Homo sapiens: one gene and its partners. The protein of the gene in region 3 interacts with the protein of the main gene of each other region in a pairwise test. Each region holds a gene or a part of one and is shown on either strand. Other genes may lie near its edges.

Evidence for each region.
Region 1: the proteins of MAP7 (region 3) and ZNF114 interact in binary tests that used the Homo sapiens proteins (3 or more experiments, as listed by UniProt).
Region 2: the proteins of MAP7 (region 3) and CLIP4 interact in binary tests that used the Homo sapiens proteins (3 or more experiments, as listed by UniProt).

The regions. Positions count from the first base shown.
Region 1 is NC_000019.10:48,265,347-48,273,080, forward strand, and holds the start of ZNF114 (zinc finger protein 114), read left to right. Parts: upstream 1-4,734; 5' UTR 4,735-4,873; exon of another isoform or gene 4,874-4,887; intron 4,888-5,556; exon of another isoform or gene 5,557-5,769; intron 5,770-5,874; exon of another isoform or gene 5,875-5,898; 5' UTR 5,899-6,103; intron 6,104-6,269; exon of another isoform or gene 6,270-6,380; 5' UTR 6,381-6,482; exon of another isoform or gene 6,483-6,486; intron 6,487-7,734. UniProt on the Homo sapiens protein: May be involved in transcriptional regulation.
Region 2 is NC_000002.12:29,110,661-29,118,427, forward strand, and holds the start of CLIP4 (CAP-Gly domain-containing linker protein 4), read left to right. Parts: upstream 1-4,754; 5' UTR 4,755-5,005; intron 5,006-7,495; exon of another isoform or gene 7,496-7,701; intron 7,702-7,767.
Region 3 is NC_000006.12:136,365,376-136,372,479, forward strand, and holds part of MAP7 (ensconsin), read right to left. Parts: intron 1,065-7,104; coding exon 952-1,064; intron 644-951; coding exon 360-643; intron 1-359. UniProt on the Homo sapiens protein: Microtubule-stabilizing protein that may play an important role during reorganization of microtubules during polarization and differentiation of epithelial cells. Associates with microtubules in a dynamic manner.

The DNA of each region.
Region 1 (7,734 bases), on a different chromosome or scaffold from region 3:
GAGGCTGAGACCTACCGGGCTGCATTCCCAAATGATGAAGGCATTCTAAGTCACAGGATGAGATAGGAGGTCGGCACAAGATACAGGTCATAAAGACCTTGCTGATAAAACAGGTTGCAGTAAAGGAGCCGGCCAAAACCCACCAAAACCAGGATGGCGACGAGAGTGACCTCTGGTGGTCCTCATTGCTACACTCCCACCAGCTCCATCACAGTTTACAGATGCCATGGCAACGTCAGGAAGTTACCCTATGTGGACCAAAAAGGGAAGGCATGAATAATCCACCCCTTGGTTACCATATCATGAAGAAATAACCATAAAAACAGGCAACCAAGGCCGGGCACAGTGGCTCACGCTGGTAATCCCAGCACTTTGGGACGCTGAGGCGGGCAGATCACCTGAGGTCAGGAGTTCGAGATCACCCTGGCCAGTATGGTGAAACCACGTCTCTACTGAAAATACAAAAAAAATTAGCAGGGCCTGGTGGTGGGCACCTGTAATCCCAGCTACTCGGGAGGCTGAGGCAGGAGAATGGTGTGAACCCAGGAGGCGGAGGTTGCAGTTTGCCGAGATCACGCCATTGCACTCCAACCTAGGCAACAGGAGCGAAACTCCGTCTCAAAAAAGAAAGAAAGAAAGAAAGAAAAACATGTTAAATGACAACACAAGGATCTAATTGGCAAAACTGAAACCAAAGAAAATTTTACAGAAAAAATGACCTACTTTCTACAACAATAGCAATGTTTGAATGGGGGGATGGAATTAAATAAGTGGCAACTTAGATTAACAAAGAATTAACACACACACACAAAAACCTATTATAGTGGATGATTTGTATCTCTATGCAAAGCAATAAAGTAAAAATAAGAACCAGGGAAATGACAACATTAACGGGATATTTTATGATGTCCTGAATGATGATTACTTTTCATTGTAAGGGAGTATTCATGTAAGACAGTAAAGCATTTTTTAACTCTTCATCTTTTAAACATACATAGTGATATTTTTATTTTTTATTTTTTATTTATTGATACAGAGTCTCACTCTGTCACCCAGAGTGGAGTGCAGTGGCAAGATCTCAGCTCACTACAACCTCCACCTCCTGAGCTCAAGTGATCCTCCCGCCTCAGCCTCCCAAGTAGCTGAAGTAGCTGGGACTACGTGCACCACACGCCTGACTAATTTTTTTTTTTTTTTTTTTAGAGACAGGGTTTTGCCATTTTGCCCAGGGTGGTCTCGAACTCCTGAGCTCAGGCAATCCACCCACTTCGGCCTCTCAAAGCATGAACCACTGTACCTGGCCATCGTAGTGATATTTTTACAGGTGAAATAATATAATGTTCCCAATTTTCTTTAAAAAGATCCACCTAGCAGTGAAGGCATAGGTGAAACGGGATATTGAGGATACCAGAAAAGAAGCAGGTTTTTTTGTGGTTTTTTGTGGGTTTTTTTTTTTTTTTTTTTTTTGAGACAGAGTCTCGCTCTGTCACCCAGGCTGGAGTGCAGTGGCGCAATCTTGGCTCACTGCAACCTCCGCCTCCTGGCTTCCAGCGATTCTCCTGCCTCAGCCTCCCAAGTAGCTGGGATTACAGGCGTCCACCACACCCAGCTAATTTTTGTATTTTTAGTAGAGACTGGGTTTCACCATGTTGGCCAAGCTGGTCTCGAACTCCTGATCTCGTGATCCGCCCGCCTCAGGCTCCCAAAGTGCTGGGATTACAGGCGTGAGCCACCGCCCCTGGCCAAGAAGCAGGTTTTTGAAGGGAGAGGATGAGAAAACAAGGGAAGGGAAGCACTGCTGGAGATGAAGACCCAGAGAAAATAGAAGGGAATTGGACACCTACAACCACTAGAGGTCGCAAGAGGAATATCCTTTAGTGCCCTGAGCCCAGACCTGAACCAAGGTTTAACAGGGTTCTTCTCAAGTCCTTGGACTCCTTCGGTCATAATTTGGGAGCCTCCAAAAAGGAGAGCCTGAAATGAGGGCTTACGTGCAGGTAGTTTATTTGGGGAAGAGGTCAGAAATTTTCTTTTTTTTTTTTATGGAGTTCCGCTCTTGTTGCCCAGGCTGGAGTGCAATGGCACACTCGGCTCACCGCAACCTCCGCCTCCCAGGTTCAAGCGATTCTCCTGCCTCAGCCTCCCGAGTAGCTGGAATTACAGGCATGCGCCACCACGCCCGGCTAATTTTGTATTTTTAGTAGAGACGGGGTATCTCCATTTTGGTCAGGCTGGTCTTGAACTCCTGACCTCAGGTGATCCGCCCACCTCAGCCTCCCAAAGTGCTGAGATTACAGGTGTGAGCCAACGCCCCCAGCCCGAGGTCAGAAATTTTCTTATGTCACATTGTACTTTTTTTTTTTTTTTTTTTTTTTTGAGACAGAGTCTCACTCTGTTGCCCAGGCTGGAGTGCAGTGGCACGATCTCGGCTCACTGCAACCTCTCCCCGTCAGGTTCAAACAATTCTCCCGCCTCAGCCTCCCGAGTACCTGGGACTACAGGCATGCACTACCATGCCTGGCTCATTTTTGTATTTTTAGTAGAGACGGGGTTTCACCATGTTGGCCAGGCTGGTGTTGAACTCCTGACCGCAGGTGATCCGCCCGCCTCAGCTTCCCAAAGTGCTGGGATTACAGGTGTGAGCCACCATGCCCAGCCATACATTTTACTTTTGAACACTACATACCGTGGAATACTTTTCAGACTTTAAAAGGAATGAAATACTGATACATGCTTCACCGTAGGTGAACTTGGAAAACATTGTGCAAAATTAAATACGTCAGACACAAAAAGGCAAAGGCCGAGTGATTCCACTTCTAGGAGATTCCTAGAACAGTCAAATTCCTGGACACAGAAAGTAGAACAGAGCTTACCAGGGACTGAGAGAAAAAGGGAATGGGGTGTGATTATTTAACGGGTACGGAGTTTTAATTGGGAAAGATGACAAAGTTCTGGAGATGAATCGTGATGATGGTTACACAGCGATGTGGCTGTACTTAATGCCACTGAAGTGTACACTTTAAAATGGTTCACATGGAGGCCGGGCACGGTGGCTCATGTCTGTAATCCCAGCACTTTGGGAGGCCGAGGTGGGTGGATCACGAGGTCAGGAGATCGAGACCATCCTGGCTAACATGGTGAAACCCCATCTCTACTAAAAATACAAAAAAAATAGCTGGGCGTGGCAGATGCCTGTAGTCCCAGCTACTCAGGAGGCTGAGGCAGGAGAATGGCGTGAACCCGGGAGGCAGAGCTTGCAGTGAGCCAAGATCGTGCCACTGCACCTCAGCCTGGGTGACAGAGGGAGAGTCCGTCACAAAAAAAAAAAAAAAAATGGTTCACATGGAAATGTTTGTGATGTATATTTTATCACCGTAAAAAAATGTAACTGGGGTAAGTATGATCAATATTTGGCAATTTAAGCTTTATGGTAGAATTTCATTACTAGAGTGAAGAAAGACAGTCCATAAAAAATAAATTATTTAGGCCGGGGTGCAGTGGCTCATGCCTGTAATCCCAGCACTTCGGGAGGCCGAGGCAGGTGGATCACCTGAGGTTGCGAGTTCGAGGCCAGCCTGACCAACATGGAGAAACCCCGTCTCTACTAAAGACACAAAACTTAGCCAGGCATGGTGACGTGTGCCTGTAATCCCAGCTACTCGGGAGGCTGAGGTGGGAGAATTGCTTGAACCCGGGAGGCAGAGGTTGTGGTGAGCTGAGATTGCGCCATCGCACTCCAGCCTGGGCAACAAGAGCGAAACTCCGTCTCAAAATAAATAAATAAATAAATTATTTAATTGACCAGATAGGGACTCCCAGCCCTTCCTTCCTGGGGAGCTCCAGGAGCTGGCTGGGCTGGGCTTAATCTTTCCTCCCAAAGAACCAAAAGAAAAAGAGATGCACATCAAGGTTTGCTGGGGACCCTCAAAGGAAAAGAAACGATGTAACTCGAGTAGAGGATAAACGCTTTGTTCAGCTGATTTGCATCAGGGGCACCTGAAGATCAAGCGACTCCCCAGTTAAGCAGAGTCAGGGTGGGAAACTGAGTCTGTGTCCTAGAGGTCTGGGTTTAGGCAGTCATTTTGGGTTTTGTTTTGTTTTGTTTGTTTTGAAACGGAGTCTTGCTCTGTCACCCAGGCTGGAGTGCAATGGCGCTATCTCAGCTCACTGCAACCTCCTCCTCCCAGGTTCAAACGATTCTCCTGCCTCAGCCTCCCGAGCAGCTGGGATTACAGGTATGCACCACCATGCCCAGCTCGTTTTTGTATTTTTAGTAGAGACAGGGTTTCGCCATGTTGGCCTTGAACTCCTCGCCTCAGGTGATCTGCCCACCTCAGCCTCCCAAGGCCAGAGGATCACTTTAAGCCCAGTGTCAGGCCTCTGAGCCGAAGCTCAGCCATTGTAACCCCTGTGACCTACACATATACGTCCAGATGGCCTGCAGGAGCCAAGAAGTCTGGAGCAGCCGAAAAACCACAAAAGAAGTGAAACAGCCAGTTCCTGCCTTAACTGATTAACCCACCTTATGACATTCCACCATTATGACTTGTTCCTGCCCTGCCCCAACTGATCAGTCGACCCTGTGACATTCTTCTCCTGGACAATGAGTCCCATGATCTCTCCACAATGCACCTTGTGAGCCCCTCCCCTGCTGACAACAAATAACCACCTTTAACTGTAACTTTCCACTGCCTACCCCAGCCCTATAAAGCTGCCCCTCTCCTATCTCCCTTCGCTGACTCTCTTTTCCAACTCAGCCCACTTGCACCCAAGTGAATAAACAGCCTTTGTTGCTTACACAAAGCCTGTTTAGGTGGTCTTCTATACGGACACGCGTGACACCCAGGAGTTCGAGACGAGTCTGGGCAGCATAGTGAGTTTTCATCTCTAAAAAAAAAAAAAATTAAAATTAGCCAGGCATGCCTTGTACGTGCCTGTGGTCCCAGCTACTTGGGAGACTGAAGTGGTAGGATCGCTTGAGGCTGCAGTGAGCCAAGATTGCGCCACTGCACTCCAGCCTGAAGGACAGAGCAAGAACTTGTCTCAGAAAAAAAAAAAGAAAAAAAGAATAAGAAAAGGAAAAAAATAAAAAAGGAAGGAAGGGAGGGAGGGAGGGGCAGAGAGGGAGAGAGGAAGGGGGGAAGGAAGGAAAGAAAGAAAGAAAGAGAAAGGGAGGGAGAGAGAGAAAGGAAAGAAGGGAGGGAGGGAAGAAAGAGAAAGAAAAAAGAAAGAAGAAAGAAAGAAAGAGAAGAAAGAAGGGAGGGAGGAAGGGAGGGAGGGAGAAAAGGAGGAAGGGAGAGAGAGAAAGAAAAAGAAGAAAGAAAGAGAAAAAAGGAAGGAAGGAGGGAGGGAGAGGAAAAGAAAGAAAGAGAAGAAAGAAAGAGAAAAAAGGGAAAGAAAGAAAAGAGAAAAAAGAGAAAGAAAGAAAGAAAGAAAGAAAAGAAAAGAAGGGCCGGGCGCGGTGGCTCACGCCTGTAATCTCAGCACTTTGGGAGGCCGAGGCGGGCGGATCACGAGGTCAGGAGATCGCTGAAACCCTGTCTTTACTAAAAATACAAAAACTTAGCCAGGGTGGTGGCGGGCGCCTGTAGTCCCAGCTACTCGGAGGCTGAGGCGAGAGAATGGCATGAACCCGGGAGGCGGAGGTTGCAGTGAACCGAGATCGCGCCACTGCACTCCAGCCTGGGCGACAGAGCGAGACTCCGTCTCAAAAAAAAAAAAGAAAGAAAGAAAAGAAAGGAAGGAAGGAAGAAAAAAATCATTTCAAGGGTAGGCGACGGGAGCCTTGCGGTTTAGCCGCTAGTCAACGGATGGGGGGGAGTGGTAGCAAAAACATAAAAATGGGGACAAGAGAGAAACTGGAGACTCCCCAACCTGTCTGTTTCCGCCCTTTTACAGTACTGAGGGGAAAAAAAAGCCTTCTTTCCTTGGGAAATGCAGGAAGCCAGCAAGCGGCCGGAGTCTCCGGAGCCCGCAAGGAGGCGCGTTGGCTGCGCAGAGAGCGCGCTTCCCAGCTGGAGAGCCTAGGAACGGTGGCGCGGGCGGAGGCGACAGCGAGGACCCAAGGCTGGGGTTTCCTGCTTGGATCAGGAGTGCCTGGGGAGTAAGTTCTACAGGAAATGTCAATCTACTGGTCGTGGGGGTCAGACTCTGGGGTCGGGTCGATCGGGTCCCGGGGGCGGGGGGTGGGACGGGGGTGGGCAGGCAGGAGTGCGGGCGCTGGGATCCCCTGCCTGCTCGGCTCCCCTCTCCTCCCCCTGGTCCCTTACACCGTCCATTTTGAGGAAGGGGTCAAGAAGCGAGTACAAAATGTCTGGGCAGGACGAATCTCTGTAGTCGGTCCTTCCTGGCGGCCTCGTTAGGTTGATTTATTTCAACAGTTTGATCCCCATCCTGGTGCAGCTCCGAGACGCTCCTGGGCTGCGCGCGCTTTTGGGCTGCGCCACCGACAGAGACATCTGGAAGCCGGAGCTAGTGGAAGAGTAAGTGTGCCTGAGTGTCCGTACTAAGGGCGGGACCGGGCCGGGGCCCAGGGACTTGAGAGTTGCTGTCTGCAAAAGCCTCATTGTCTCTACCCTTCCGGGAGGAAAGGGGAAGGCACGAATGACCCACGTGTTCAGACCCCGAGCGCGCCCTTCACCTTGGCCCAGGGAGAAGGGCGCTTCCCCCATACCGTGCTGCAGCGTTGCGAAAGCGCCTGTCCCCGGGCTTGGGCAGCAGAGATGCCCGCATGCAGCGGTTGCAGGGGTTGTGTTCTTTGCATCCATGAAAGTATTGGAGCTGGCCGGGCGCGGTGGCTCACGCCTGTAATCCCAGCATTTTCGAAGGCCGAGGTGGGCGGATCACCTGAGGTCAGGAGTTCGAGACCAGCCTGGCCAACATGGTGAAACCCCCATCTCCACTAAAAATACCAAAATTAGCTGGCCGTGGTGGCATGCGCCTGTAATCCCAGCTACTCAGGAGGCTGAGGCAGTAGAATCGCTTGAACCCGGGAGGTGGAGGTTGCAGTGAGCCGAAATCGAGCCATTGCACTCCAGCCTGGGCGACAGAGGGAGACTCTGTCTCAAAAAAAAAAATAAATAATAATAATAATAATAATTAGCCGGGCATGGTGGCGGGCGCCTGTGATCCTAGCTACACGGGAGGCTGAGGCAGGAGAATCGCTTGAACCTGGGAGGTGGAGATTGCAGTGAGCCGAGCGCCTGTAATCCTAGCTACTTGGGAGGCTGAGGCAGGAGAATCGCTTCTACCTGGGAGGTGAAGGTTGCAGTGAGCCGAGATCGTGCCACTGCACTCTAGCCTGGGCGACAGAGCAAGACTCTCTCTCAAAAAAAAAAAAAAAAAAAAAAAAAGTATTGGATTGGAGCCTGTTGTGATGAGGGTGAACTGAAAAGTCCTGGGCAGGGCCAGACGTGCAGGATGCACTGGTTTCTTACGAGAAAGAGCTTTTTTTTTTTTTTTTTTTTTGAGAGGGAGTCTCGCTCTGTCACCCAGGCTGGAGCGCTGTGGCGCGATCTCTGCTCACTGCAAGCTCCGCCTCCCGGGTTCACGCCATTCTCCTGCCTCAGCCTCTCAAGTAGCTGGGACTACAGGCGCCCGCCACCGCGCCCGGCTAATTTTTTGTATTTTTAGTAGAGACGGGGTTTCACCGCGTTAGCCAGGATGGTCTCGAGCTCCTGACCTCGTGATCTGCCCGCCTCGGCCTCCCAAAGGGCTGGGATTACAGGCGTGAGC
Region 2 (7,767 bases), on a different chromosome or scaffold from region 3:
AATCAGGAAAACAGAGATGATATTTGTTTATTTATTATTATTATTTGAGATGGAGTCTCACTCTGTCCCCTAGGCTGGAGTGCAGTGGCATGCTCTCAGCTCACTGCAACCTCCACCTCCCAGGTTCCAGCAATTCTCCTGCCTCAGCCTCCCAAGAAGCTGAGATCACAGGTGCACGCCACCATGCCTGGCTAATTTTTGTATTTTTAGCAGAGACCAGGTTTTACCATGTTGGCCAGGTTGGTCTTGAACCCCTGGCCTCAAGTGATCCTTCCTCGGCCACTGAAAGTGCTGGGATTACAGGTGTGAGCCACCACGCCTGGTCAATATTTAAAGCCATAGACTGAATAAGGTCACCTAGTGAATGAGAAACTGACTTCCTGGAAACTGCATGAACAAGGTGCTTATAGAACCACTGTAAGGGTTTCTCTGAGGCATATCCAGGAGGGTGACTGCTGAGTCATAAAGCATACTGCTAATTTTTTTCACTAAGCACTGCCAGGTTGATCTGCAGAATATATTTACCAGTTTAAATTTCCATCAGCAGTGCATCTTTCCCCAGATCTTTGCCAATATTTGGGATTATCTTTCTGATTTCTGCCATGCTGGTGGGTGAAGCAGTGGTGTGTTGAAAACAGTTCATGAGAGCTGATAAAGCACATTTCTTCCCAACTTCTTGTTCAGTGACCTCAAGCTACACTGGTAGCTGGAAACTGGCAGTGCTCAGAGTATTTGCACCATGGAAATTGGCAAACACTGTACGTTAGGACTTTTCCTTCCCTGGGGAGCGGGTTTTAAAACATAGACCAGCATATTGGTGGCTATGGGGTCACACTCTTTATATTCCCACTCTGATTACAAGTGGGGTTGAGCATCTCTTTAATGCTTGCTTGCCATTCTGGCTTTTCCTTCTGTGAATTGTCTATTCTTATACTTTTCTCATTTTTATATTGGCCTTTAAAATATTTTATATTGACTTCCTTTTGATTTGTGAAAAGTTCCTCATGCATTTCAGATATTAATCCCTAGTTGCTTTTGAACATAGCACATGTTTTCTTCCAATTTGTCAGCCATCTGTTAATTTTTTCTATGGTATTCTTAACTGAACAGAACCCTTAATTGTGATGCAGTCAAGTCATACAATTTTTTTTTGCTTCAAGGATTGTGCTTTTGCAAACCTGTTTTATGAAGTAAATTCCTAACCCACATTATAGAGATAGTCTCCTGCATTTTCTTTTGTATCATATGTAGGTCTGCCATTTATCTGGAGTTCACCTTTGTATATGGCAGAACATGGGGCTCTCAACTTTATTTTTCCTTGATAAATTAAAGCCAGTTTCCCGAATGCCGTCTTCTAAATAATTTATATTTTTCTCATTGATCTGTGGTACCACCTTTGTGTAAATGGAGGTAGCATTTATACGTGGGTCTGCTCCTGAGTTCTTCATTCTGTTTCCTATTTGCTCTATGTGTTCCTATACCAGTACCATAATATTTTTATTACTATGTGGCAATGACATAATATCTGGCATGGCAGGTCTGCTCTGGTTTTTATAATTGACTTAACTGTTTAAAATTTATTTCTCCTTATATATTTTGTAAGTTTGTTGAGTTCCCTAAAAATTTAGTTTCTGCTGGAATTTTGGTTGCCATAACATTTACTTTGGAGACTAAATGGATACTTTTACAATGTAAAGTCATCCTATCCATGCTGTATCTCTCCACTTATTCAATATTTTATGTCCTTAAATAGAGTTTTAAAATTTTCTCCTTAAAGTTTTTGCAAGTTGTTGGGTTAATTCCTGGATATTATGCTTTAGAGTTTGTTAAACTTTATTGTTATTGTGAATGGTTTCTTATTGTCTGTTACATTTCCCAGTTGCTTACTGCTGATGTAGACAAAACTATTGATTTTTAGAAACTGATCTTGTACTTGGCAACCTTGCTGAGCTAACATTACTTCTAATACTTTGTTGATTCTGTTGGGCTTTTTATGCTGATGATCACACCTGTAAACATCACAGACAGGAAGATATTAGGGGCTCTGCCCAGTGCTCTGATCTTTTGCATTTAAGCACTTCTGCTAGTTGAACTCCAATCTGGTGCCCCAATTCTGACAGTTGGGTGTCTCTCATGGTCCTAAGGGCCTAGGCCCCCTATACACTCACAAATTAGAAACTGATGATATTCCATCCCATATCCAGTCCATGTAAAAGCAGTGACCTTGTCTTCTTTTGCTATTTCCTCTAACCCTTTTATCATGGTCGGGGTCCTGAGAGCTGCTGACAGATCTTCCTGCTGCCGAGTGTCTGAATTCCTGAATGCTGCTCTATGCAGCCATTCTGGGTCTTTAATGCCCCCAAAGACAGCCTGTGTAGGTTAGCAAAGTAGTGAATCAACATAGGCCTTCAGATCAGACAGACTTAGGTTTGAATCTTATTTCTGCCCCTGGCTACATGGAGCAAGTCACGCAGCCTCCCAGAGTCTGCTTCTTCATTTGTAAAGTGAAGACAAGATTTCCATAGGTCAAGTGCCTTACAGTGGTCAGTGAGTAATGCCCTTTCTCCACACTGTGATGTTGACCAGTAAGTTGATCACCTCCTGACGCTGTGGATTATTGCTATACTTTTCAGGAACTTTGTGTCTCCAGATAGAATTGAATCTCAGCAGCTACAGTTGGTCCACATCCCCATGTGCCTTCCCACCCCAATGAATAGTTCAAGTTCCAAGTTCTGGCCACATATCATTGTCCAGTCTCACTCTGGTTAACTGGGCAATACCTGGTTCTAAAGCTTGTATGTCACGAGGTATTCTAGGAAGCATGACTCCAACGAGCACTTGCATTCTTGATGATGGTATAAAGAAGTAACGTCAGATTTTTGAACAAAGGCAACTAAGTGAGTGGGAGACTCTGGTGGCTTGGTATCCTGGGAATTTGCCTATGTATCATACAGTGTTTGGGTGTAGCAGATAAAGCCAGTGGCCTGGCTGGTTCTAACAGAGATCTTTATTATAACTAAGAACAACTGAGCTAGCCATGCCTTGTCACCTACTAATAGTGGTATTTCAGATGGATAATTTAAATCAGCAATAAAAGTGAACTGTATACGTTTGGAAACTTCACCAATAGCTACTCTGTTACACACAGATCTTTATGACTTTCTGTGGTTCAATGACAATTGGCCTCATTTATAGGTGCTTGAAGCCAACCAAGGGCAGATTGCCTTCCTTCTTTTAACCAGCTAAAGAGATGGGTGGGTCAGACAAGAAGAGGGTATGATGAAAGCAGGGAAAGGGAGGTGGACTCTTCAGAGGGAGGAGGAAGTATCCGTGTCACATTATCTCTGAGAGCACTCGCAGATGCTGAGCCTGCAGAGACAGAGAAACTGGCAGCTGACCAGGGTCAGGGATGGTCATGTATTCAAATATTGTGGGTTTTAGTCAAGTGTGCTCCACCCGATTCAACAATGTGATGTGACTGCTCCTAGCAACTATTTTGATATGGTGAATGTTGTTAAGCATAGGACCTAAGAAGAGGTGGCAGTCTCTTTCCTCTCCGCACTTGGCAGGCCACCCACTCATTCCTGATAATCACATTTAAGAGAGCTCTGGACAAGCTGGAATGCATCCAAGAGAATCCCTCAACATGCTGGTGAGTGGGATTGTGACCAGGTCATATCAGGAGTAGCCTAAGGGACAGGTAATGTGTGTCTTGGATGAATTGGAGTCAGACTTAAGAGTCCCCAGGGCAGAAACAAAATCCAGTGAGGGAGAGATGCAGGGAGCTGGATTTTAGCTCCTAAGGTAGAAAATTTCCAAAAGGCTGATCAAAGATTAAATGGCTGCCTTAAAAGGTAATGAGTTCCTTGTTAGTGGAGGTGTTCAACCACTGCTTGGTGGGAAGACACTGTAAGGAGGATTCAGGCAAGTGGGAAGGGGGCTTTTTCCAGTCCCTGAAATCAATGATTCTAACAGGAAAAGATGCTCCGGGGTGCGGTGAGCGCTTACCTCTGCTCTTGCAGAGACACTGACAGACGTTCATTCAACATCTGTTCCTGCCAGGCACTGTGCGCGCTGAACACAGAAGTACAGCCTCTATGAAGCAGCCGCTGTAGGCCTCAGAGACAGCTGATAGATGTAACACTGTTGTCTCCATGTTTCAAACTTCGGTCATGGTCTTACTAGGTCTCCTCATTAAGGGGACTCACTATGTGTCCAGTAACGCTTTCTTGTTACCAGATGACAGAGAGTCAGGCTGTCAGAGTTCACGACTTTAGGTGCACAGTTTCACCCTGTCTGGTCCTTGGGAGACGGAGAAGGGGTCAGGAGAAAACGTGGGTGAAGAGGCAGCAAAGCCGCAGGAGATATGAACTAATTGCTCAACGTGGGTGTAGCACGGATTAGGCCTTTTACAGCAAGCGCTGCCAGCAGGGAACTGGTGGATGTACTCTTGACCACGCTCGGCTGGACTCTGGGGAGCCCAAGACGGGTAAGACTAGGTCCCCGGCCCCAGCAGCTGGTGGGGGCGCCGCAGGTTAGAGACGTGAGGCCGCGAGGCTGAGGGCTGTGAAGGCGGTGGGCACGCACGGCGTGCCGGGGCCGCCTGGCTTCGCGGCGGGGGAGGTAACACTGCGACACCCCGCAGACGCTGTCAGCCGGGGTCGCGGCCCCGCGTGCGCCCGATCATCTGACTGCTGGGGAGTGCGGGGGCGCGGGAGCCAGGCGAGCCAGCGCAGGCGCGCGCTGCCTCCTCCGTCCCCACCGAGTCCCCAGCGCGTGCGCGGGGCCGTGGCCGAGGCCTGCGCGCCGCCCGGCCGCCTGCACTGCGCGCGCGCCCACCCCGCGTGGGAGGCAGCGGGAGGGGCCCGGAGAGGTGTGGAGCGGCGCGGCGGGAGGCTCCGTGGGCGGCCACGGGAGACAGCGCCGGCGGGAGCGCGCCTCTCGGCCTTTCCTCCGCGCCCCCGCGTCCCCAGCCGGCCGCTCCGAGAGGACCCGGAGGAGGCAGGTGGGCCGGGGGCGCGCGGGGCCCCCCCGGGCCGCGGGCTGGCCGGCGGCGGGGTTGGGGCCGGGGTGGGCGGCCCTGGGGGCCCGCGGGGAGGTCAGTGGCCCCGGGAGGGTCGCGCAGAGGCGCTGGGGGCTGTGGAAGCCCCGCGGCCGCCTCCCGTGGGCACCGGTGTCGCTGGCCGCGGGGAGGCCTTCTCGGGGCGGAGCGGCCCACCCGGCGGGGATGGGGACTCCTCGTGGCGGCCGCTGACGGACGGCCCAACTTTAGGTTGAGGGGCGCGGGGTGTGCGGGACCCGGCGGCGGAGCTGGGCTCTGGGCCACGACCGCCAGCCGCGGCTGCCCCGAGAGTCCCCGCACGCGCAGTGGCTTTCCAACGCGGCCTCTTCCCATTTCTCACTTGACTCCCCTTGCGCATTAAATTGTCGAGAAACCTTTGGCCAGTGGGTCTTCAAAGCTAAACCAAATGGCTGTCCTTGCAGTCCTTGGCTACCTGAGATCCCTTAATTCTGAACCATCCGCACCTGGGAGGGGAAGTTGAAAGGAGCGCTGGAGCTGAGCCCGCATCCTTAAGGATCCCATTCACTGCTTATGATGGTAGAGCTTTGAATTAGATGTCAGGCTGTTCACGTCATCCAGACTCTGGTTTTCAGCTCTGTGCTGAGACAGTGTTTTGATACGTATCAGAGGATGATGTTCCTATGGGACAATAACTTGCTGTATGTTCTGAGATACTAGACTGCGTTCATATTGTAGCACCATCATCGTATAAAACGGGCGCCTTTGAAAGGTTTCAGTAAACACCTTCCTCAGGAACATCCGCCAGCACTTAAATTGTACTTCACTTTCACTTTGACGTTTGTTGTTTGTGAATCTTGTGCACAATTTAAAGTGAGTCGTCTAAACAGCACAGGATCACGTGGTGCGGGGCATTGAGCAACTGGGGAGGAAAGCAGAGACTTGAACCTGCTGGAGTCTAGTTGGTCTGCGTTTTTATGTTGGAGAACCATCCTGGTTCCAGCTTATTTTGCTTTCGTAAATATGATGCATTTTTTAAATGCTTTCATTTGATACGGTCTATCTGGACTGTAAGATTGAGTCTAGCCATGCATGGAATGTGTTTACTTCTGTTTTGTAGAAGATTTAGCCCATGGTATTCTATTTGTAGGATTCATTTCAGACATTTTGTGTTTACCACATACAGTCCCACCAGCAAGGGCTTTTAAAAAAGTGACCTATGTTGTCTCTCATAGCTTATGACAACTCCAATTTTGACACGTGTTTGAAACTAGTGATCTTTAGATTATATAAAATCAACTTCACTCTTTCTCCCTGTTCAAACCTCAAACTCTGGTTACTTTTAGGCTTACTGCTCCCTTGTTAATTATTTATAATGAACTATGGAGCTATAGGCTTGCTTTAGTGTGTTAACCTTTATTTGTGTCTTGTTTCAGGCATTTGTATATTGTTTTCTCATCTGGAGAGTGAGCTGCACTGTTTTCCTTCAGTGCTGTTTAGAAGAGCTTTCGGAGACCAGAAACATGTTCTTTTTGCATTACCCAATATGGTAGCACTAGCCACATATAGCTTTTGACCACTTGAATGGGGCTAGAGCAGTGGAAGCACTGAAATTTTAATATTTTTTTTCTTTTCCTTTTCTCTCTCTCTTTTTTTTGTTTTTGTTTTTTTTTTTTGAGACGGAGTCTCGCTCTGCTCTGTCACCCAGGCTGCAGTGCAGTGGCCTGATCTCTCCTCACTGCAATCTCTGCCTCCCAGGTTCAAGCGATTGTTCTGCCTGAGCCTCTCGAGCAGCTGGGATTACAGGCGCCTGCTACCACACCCTGTTAATTTTTGCTGTGGGGTTTCACCATATTGGCCAGGGTGGTCTCGAACTCCTGACCTGAAGTGATCTGCCCATCTCGGCCTCCCGAAGTGTTGGGATTACAGGCATGAGCCACTGCACCTGGCCAATTTTTAAATTAATTTAAATAGTCACATGTGGCTAGTAGTTAGCTGGTCAGATGCCACAGCTTTAACTTATTAGTCTCCAGGAAGCCTTCGTTGACCCTCTTGAATCTGTGCTTTCATAGGACTCAGCTGTCCTTGGTCATAGCACTTACTACTTTCAACTTTCTGGTAGGAATCAACACTAGGCTGTAATTTATATGAGGGCAAGGACAGATCTGGTTTCTTTACCTTTGCATAGCTTAGAACTTAGTAAGAAAAACTGAATAAATATTTGTTAAATGCATAAATAGCTTTTTCAGGGCAGGTATTTCAATTTTTAATTCTCTCTAAGGCCAACTAAGTGTTCAGTACTGTAAATACCTGTTTAGTAGATTGTACAGATGTTATGTAGGTAGCAAATAAAAGGATCATTGGAGTTATGCTTTAAATACTTACGTGGTGAGATTGGAATCTCAGGAGAATGATGACTCATAACAAAGTATTACAGGAAATTGAATGAAAGGGCCTCATGATTCCAGCTAATGTAGACACAGCTTTGGTCTCCTATTAGTTGAATAACTCAAGGACACTCTTGAACCATATCTCAAATCTGAAGTCTCCTGGCTTCAGTAAGGCCCTTTTATGGGGTCCAGACAGTCCTGAACCAGCCTGAAGATGCTAGTGGACATCCCCATTTATTACTGCTCTGTGTTAAAGCATGGACCAAGGAGTCTTGGAAAAAAAATCACAAGGTATTTGAGCCACGTTATGTAAGATGCTTTTGCTAACAGCTAACTTGGAGTGATGAGTAGGGTGAA
Region 3 (7,104 bases):
GGTGGTTTTACATTTCTAAGTAGCATCTGGTTACCCTGGCAGAGGTGAAAACCAGTGGGTCTTCTGGAAAAAATTCTGACTTCTATCAAGCACACAGGCTACGCCAGGGGTCCTTAAACTCCAGTATGCACAGGAATAGTGTTGCCAGGTAATTTTTTACTTAGCGTTGCTAAGTAAAAAACTATTTTTAAGCAATGCGAAGTTAAAATATTATACTTAAGGAAAGGTATTAAACTTAACCTTAGAGTAAAATTTCCAAGTCTCCAATAAAAGAAGAAAAGGAAAACAAAAAAAGCTTCATCAAAACAGTGCGGGAGAAAAAGAGAGAGCACCCAGACCACAGGTGAGTTTGCTCTTACCAGGGCCAACTTCTGGTTCAGCAGGTGTCCGCTCTTCAACTGTGGCTTCTTCTACCTTCACTAAAGGTGCTCTGCCCTTTAGTGAGGGCTCATTGGCAACTTTCTGAGGTTCCTTCTCAGGATCTTTCTTCTCAGGCTCCACTTTGACTTCCCTCTTGACAGGGCGGATGTTGCCGGGGGATGGGGGCCGGACCTGAGCAGGAGCAGCTTTGACTGAGCCGGGTGGCAAGGAGGATGTCGGTCTGGGTGTGCCAGGCAAATGAGGAAGAGACTTGGACGGAAGCCTGGGCCACAAACAAACAAGGCAGACAAAAGGGGACACATGAGAACAGGCTTGCCAGAACCTAGAACACGACTCGATGGAAGAGAATGCAGATATTTAGCTCCGTGTATTTGTTTTTTATGTGGTAGATACAGAAATAGAGTTGCTTTAGGGAACCATTCCAATTTCTCTTTTTTCTTTCCTTTTGGGAAGAATGCTATTCCCTAAGTCAAAGCCAAACAGCATGAGAAGAACAGTTCACTTTCAGAGGAGAGAGCTACTAATTCTCTAACATGAAACAACCCAGCCAGCCACTTATATTTCACTTACCAAAGTCGGGAGCGAGCTGGTTGTCTTGCTTTGGGATTAGATGGAGATACAGCCCTTCGGGTGCCAGATGTGAGGAAGAGTACATTTTCTCTCTCTCTTTCTTTTTTATAGCTCTAAGTTCAGAGAAACTCAATAGTTAGATTTTTCCACAAGCGAGGCAAACACACTCACAATACTCAACAGTGGAGCTAGAAACCATTGAATGACTTTTAAGAAATTTTCTTAGCTATGTCACATATACCCATTCCATCTCAACAAAAGGCCCTTGTTAGCTTAACACTGAACAGTATAACTGAATTAACACAATGTGACACTAATAAGGTGATTCCGGATGTGTTGGAGTCATATTTGTCAAAAAGCATATGTGTGTACATACTTTTAGAAAGCACCTATACTTTGTGTCTAAAATTAATTACCTGAAGCAAAACGTCCCATTCTGGTTTATCCCCCACAAATGTCAAATGTTACTTTCATTTTTTAAAAAATTTTAATTAAAACACATCTTTTTCTTTTTAATTCTTCAACATTTTCCCCCCAAACACACTATATCTCAGTCTTTAAAAAAATTATATGCCTGCTATATTAGACATAAACTCATTTTTTTCTTTTATATTGATGTTGTATAATGGAATCAAGTCCTTCTTCACCTACTGTCCTCTTGCAGCAATAGATAACTGATACAATAGGTGATTTTGAAGAAAAGTCAGGTTTAAAGTGAGGAATTTCAGCTATTTATTTTTTTGCTCTTCCTTACCAGGAATAAACTGAAATCTGAAGGTGGGCCAAAACATCACCCCTCCCTGATTGCCAACTAGGAATTCAGCTTGAGAGATGACACTTTCCTAAGTCAAAATGGGCAAAGGGAAGCCCAGAGAAGTGTTCCACTACTCTAAAGTCAATGAAGACCAAAACAAACAAACAAAAATTGTACAGAGCAAAACAGACCCATTCCAAGTATCTGAAACCTGACAATGCCCTCAGGTGGGAGGGGCACGTGCTGGAGGCACCTATGTGAACACCTGTCAGGAGGGCAGACTGCAAGCGTACATGGGAAGGGGCAGAGTATTATCTAGCCCCAGGTCACATGAACTAGTACTGTACCTTTTCTTCTCTCCTTTTCTGCCTGGCTCAAGCATCGACTCCTCTTTTCCTTCCTTTCCCTTTTGTTCCCCTCAGTGTCCCTTTTAATTGCTTCCCTCCATTTTCCTTAGCAGCATCCTAGTTGATGGTCTGGGTTATCAGAGGAGCAAAAACATTTAAGTGTCAAATAATGCTCATTGTCTCCCTGGGATTTCTAAACAGAAAAAATGAAGAAAGAGGCAGAGAAGAGCTTCACAAGGTGTGTGCCAGCTCTGCATCATTTCCAGCTGCTCAACCACCATTTCTCCCATTTTAGGTCCCCAAAAGTAGGAGGTGGGGCCTCACAGAGCTGCTGTGGGCTTTGGGTATCAAAAGCTGCAGCCACCATATGGGGCACTCCTGGCTGGTGTACAGGGTGGCATGCCCAGGTCTTTTCCCAGGGGAGACTGGGGTTAAGTACCTCAAGTAGCCCTTCTTTTTTTTTCTTTTTCTCAAAACATTTTGATTTGGCTGAAATCAGATCAATGGGTGATGTAAATGGGAAAAAGACTCAAGAGGGACAATTTTTGATGTGGCGTGGGGGTGGTTGGGGATTATTATTATCTGTGCCTTGATAATACAGGGATCAGGGAATGAACCTATATAAAGGTATATAATCCTAGAATTACAGTACCTTTGAGCCAATTCTTTCTTTTTTAAAAGTTATCTCCTTTAATCACCTAGGGGTAGGTGAGCAGAGGAGGAATGGTTTGGAAAAACACTCGATACTTAACACCCTCCCAACCAGGGAGTTTTTTTTTTTCTTTCTTTTTTAAACCTTTCAGTCCTTTTGTTACTCTTATATCCAACCACCCATTTGGGTACCACACATGTAAAGGCACTCCCAATTCTCATCCTGATCTGAGTTAATAGCCCACCATCTATACAATCATCTTTCCTATTAATAGTTTCCACAATGCTGAGGGGGAACACATACTCAGCAAGTCAATGGTCTGGGCAACATATCAGCAGGAAAAGGACTTTAATTTTATAATTAAGGTAGGTTTAGAATACAGTATAAATATCCTCCAACAGAGACGATTCACTGACAGATACTTTAACGCAGTGCTGTTTAATAGAACTTTCTGATATGATGAAGATGTTCTAAATTTAGCCACTAACCACATTTGCCTATTTGAATTTAAATCTAAATTAATTCAAATTAAGTAAAATAGAAAAGGAAATTTGAAAAACAACTCTATTTCCTATAGCATCCAAAGGAATAAAGTACTTAGGAATGAACTTAACAAAGGAGGCTAAAGATCTGCATACTGAAAACTAGAAGATAGTGCTGAAAGAAATTAAAGGCAACACAAATAAATGGAAGGAAGTCCTGTGTGCAGGGATTAGAAGATTTAATACTGTTAGGATGTCACTACTACCAAAAGGGATCCACAGATTCCATGCATTCCCTATTGAAATCCCAATATAATTTTTTATTTTTGCAGAAATATAAAAATTCAACCCAAAATTCACAGAAAATTTCAAAGGATCCTGAAGAACCAAAATAATCTTGAAAAAGAACAAAGTTGGAATTCTTACATTTCCTGATTTCACAACATATTACAGGTTGAGTATCCCTTATCCAAAATGATTGGGATTACAGTGTGCAGATTTCAGATTCTGGAATACTTGCATTAACACTTACTGCTTTAGCAGCCTTAATCCATATAACTGGAAATGTGAAATGCTCCAATGAGCATCTCCTTTGAGTGTCATGTTGGTATTCAAAAAGTTTCACATTTTGGAGCATTCTGTATTTTTGAATTAGAGATACTCAATTGGTGAAAAGCTACAGTGATCAGTACTGTGTGGTAATGGTATCAAGACAGATATAGATATATGGGGCTGGGCACTACGACTCATGTCTGCAATCCCAGCATTTGGGGAGGCCGAGATGGGTGGATCGCTTGAGGTCAGGAGTTCAAGACCAGCCTGGCCTACATGGCGAAACCCTCTCTCTACTAAAAATACAAAAATTAGATGGGCGTGGTAGCACATGCCTGTATTCCCAGCTACTCAGAAGGCTGGACATGAGAATTGCTTGAGCCTGGGAGGCAGAGGTTGCAGTGAGCTGAGATTGTGCCATTGTACTCCAGCATGGGTGACAGAGTGAGACTGTCTCAAAAAAAAAAAAGATATATAGACCAATGGAATAGAATCCAGAGCCCAGAAACAAACCCTTGTGTATATGGTCAAAAGCTAACACCACTCAATGAAACAAGGACATTCTCTTCAACAAATGATGCAGGGAAAACTGGATATCCAAATGCAAAAGAATGAAGTTGGACTCTTACCTTCTAAAATATACAAAAGTTAACTCAAAATGGATTAAAGACTTAAATGTAAGACTTAACACTATAAAACCTCTAGAAGAAAACATAAGTGAAAAGCTTCATGACACTGTGTTTGGTACTGATTTCTTGGATATAACACTAAAAGCGTAGGCAATAAAGTGTCAATAAATTAACAATAAACAAATGGGACAACATCAAACTTAAACACTTCTATATATCAAAGGAAACAATCAGTAGAGTAAAAAGGCAACCTATGGAATAGAAGAAAGTATCTGTAAGTCATATATTTAATAAGGGGTTACTACTAGAATATATAAATAACTCTACAATTCAACAAAAACAAAATAACCCCATTAAAAAGTGAGCAAAGACTGGAATTGCCATTTTTCTAACGATGACACATGAAAAGCCAACAAGCATATGAAAATATGTTCACCATCACTGATCATTAAAGAAATGCAAACCAAAACTACAAGACATCACCTCACATTCCTTAAGGTGGCTGTTATCAAAAAACAAGATCACGATTGTTGGCGAGAATGTGGAGATACAGAAATCTTTGTGCACTGTTAGTGGGAATGTAAAATGGTACAGCTGCTGTGGAAAATGGCATGGAGGCTCCTCAAAAAATTGAAAATAGGATTACTATATGATCCAGCAATCCCTATATATCAAGTGAAATTGAAAGAACAATCTCTAGAGATATCTATATTCCCATGTTCATAGCAGCGTTATTCACAATAGCCACGAGGTGAAAGCAACCCAAATGTTCACCAACACATGAACTGATAAACAAAATGTGGTATACAAATATAATGGAATATAATTCAGCCCTAAAAAGGAAGGAAATTCTGACATATGCTATAATAAGAATGAACCTTGAGGACATTATGCTAAGTGAAATAAGCCAGGCACAAAAATTCAAACACTGCATGATTTCACTTTTATGTGGTCTATAAAGTAGCTAAATTCATAGGAACAGAAATTAAAACAGTGGCTGCCAGGGCCTGGGGGGAGGGGGAAATGGGGAGTTGTTTAATGGGTATAGAGTTTGAGTTTTGCAGGACTTAAAAAGTTCTGGACATTGGTTGCACTTCAATATGAATATACTTAACACTGCTGAACTTTAGAATGATTAAAATGGTAAATTTTACGTTACATGCTTTTTTTTTTTTTTAACACAACTAAATATTTTTTAAAAACTTAAAATTTAGCTTGTCAGTTTCAGTAGCCACTTTCCAAGTGCTCACTGTGGCCAGTCACTACTGAATTCCACAGTGCAGCTCCAGGGTATAAATGACTCTGAGTCGTTTTCTGTTAGTATTTGCCTAAATACTTGGTTGTAAAGAGGTAAAAAGACAGCTATGTGATTAAATAGAGAAAGAGGAAGGTAATAAAAACAAAACAAAACAAGGCTCTGGATCATGTGATGACAAATCTCTCATTTAACCTGTCAGCCACAGGTGGCCCTCAACCTTCTCTCAAGGAGTGTTAATTTTTGTTTTTACCCAGAACAAGATAGTTTTTCCATGGTAAATGCTCTTTTCCCCTGCCCAGTGAGTACCCAACTTTGGGGCCAACCTGTTCTGTTTAACTACGGCTTTCTGTCTACAGCTAAGGAGGATCTCTGAAACACCAACACTCTAATAAATTAAAACTTTCCAGACATCAAAGATTGTTTCACCTGTGGCTTAGAGGGTTGGAGGCCTGACTCAATCATGAATCAAACACTGATTCCAGAAAGGCCGATGGAGCTTGAAAGAAAAACAGGCTGTAGGCAAAGCCATCAAGCTCTCACAACCCTGAATTATCCTTTAAGCAAAATCCTTTTAAGTGTCCATCAGGTTTATAAATCTGAATTGCTCTGGGAAGTTACGATTTTAAGAAACTGTTTCAGCCTTTCATCAAAAGGGTCATACTGTTATCCTGGAGAGAGGCAATGAGATCTTCTAGTTCACTGGTGAGTCCTTTAAGACTAAAGTACAATGTCTAAAGACCACAGAACAAGGTTTATATCTTTCAACTGACACCAAATAAACACAAGATTTAAAACAAAGAAGAAGATTCCTGGAGACATACAAATTACCTCATTGCATTTATAGCATGGTGAAAATTAACATTACCTCAGCCCGTAATAATAAGTACAAATTATATTTTTCACTTACAAAATCAGAATTTATAGCACAGCCTAACAGCCTTTTACGAATTAGTGATATAGCAAATGACTAATGTTTTCAAAATACTTTTTTGACTAAATTTTAAGATCCCTTGACAGGGCCTTGACAGGGATTAGCCAAGCAGGATAAAAATTCTTTATCTTGCTTTTGAGTGAACCACATTTAGAGTTCAGCCAGCTTCTGGATATGGTTGAAATAAAATGCCAAGGCAGCAGTCCAAGCCCACTTCCCCTTCAAAGGCCATTTGGTTTTCCTACTTTCAAAAATGAAAGTATTCTGGCATTGTACTTATGTGTATGGACGCTCCAGGAGGGTAGGGCGTCCACTCATACATGCTTGAACAAAGAACAGCTTTCATCTTCAAATTCAAATGTTTAGGGAGAGCAAAATCCCCAAGTGAAGAGGAAGTGAGGGGACACTACTGCCCAGCTAGCCAGATTCATGATCAATGGGAAAGATGGGATGGTGGATGTCACGGTCTCCCCCTCTTACGCCCACACCACAGCTCAGGGTCATGTACAGTCTGCACAGGAACAGCACTGGCTCCCAGACTTGCCCAG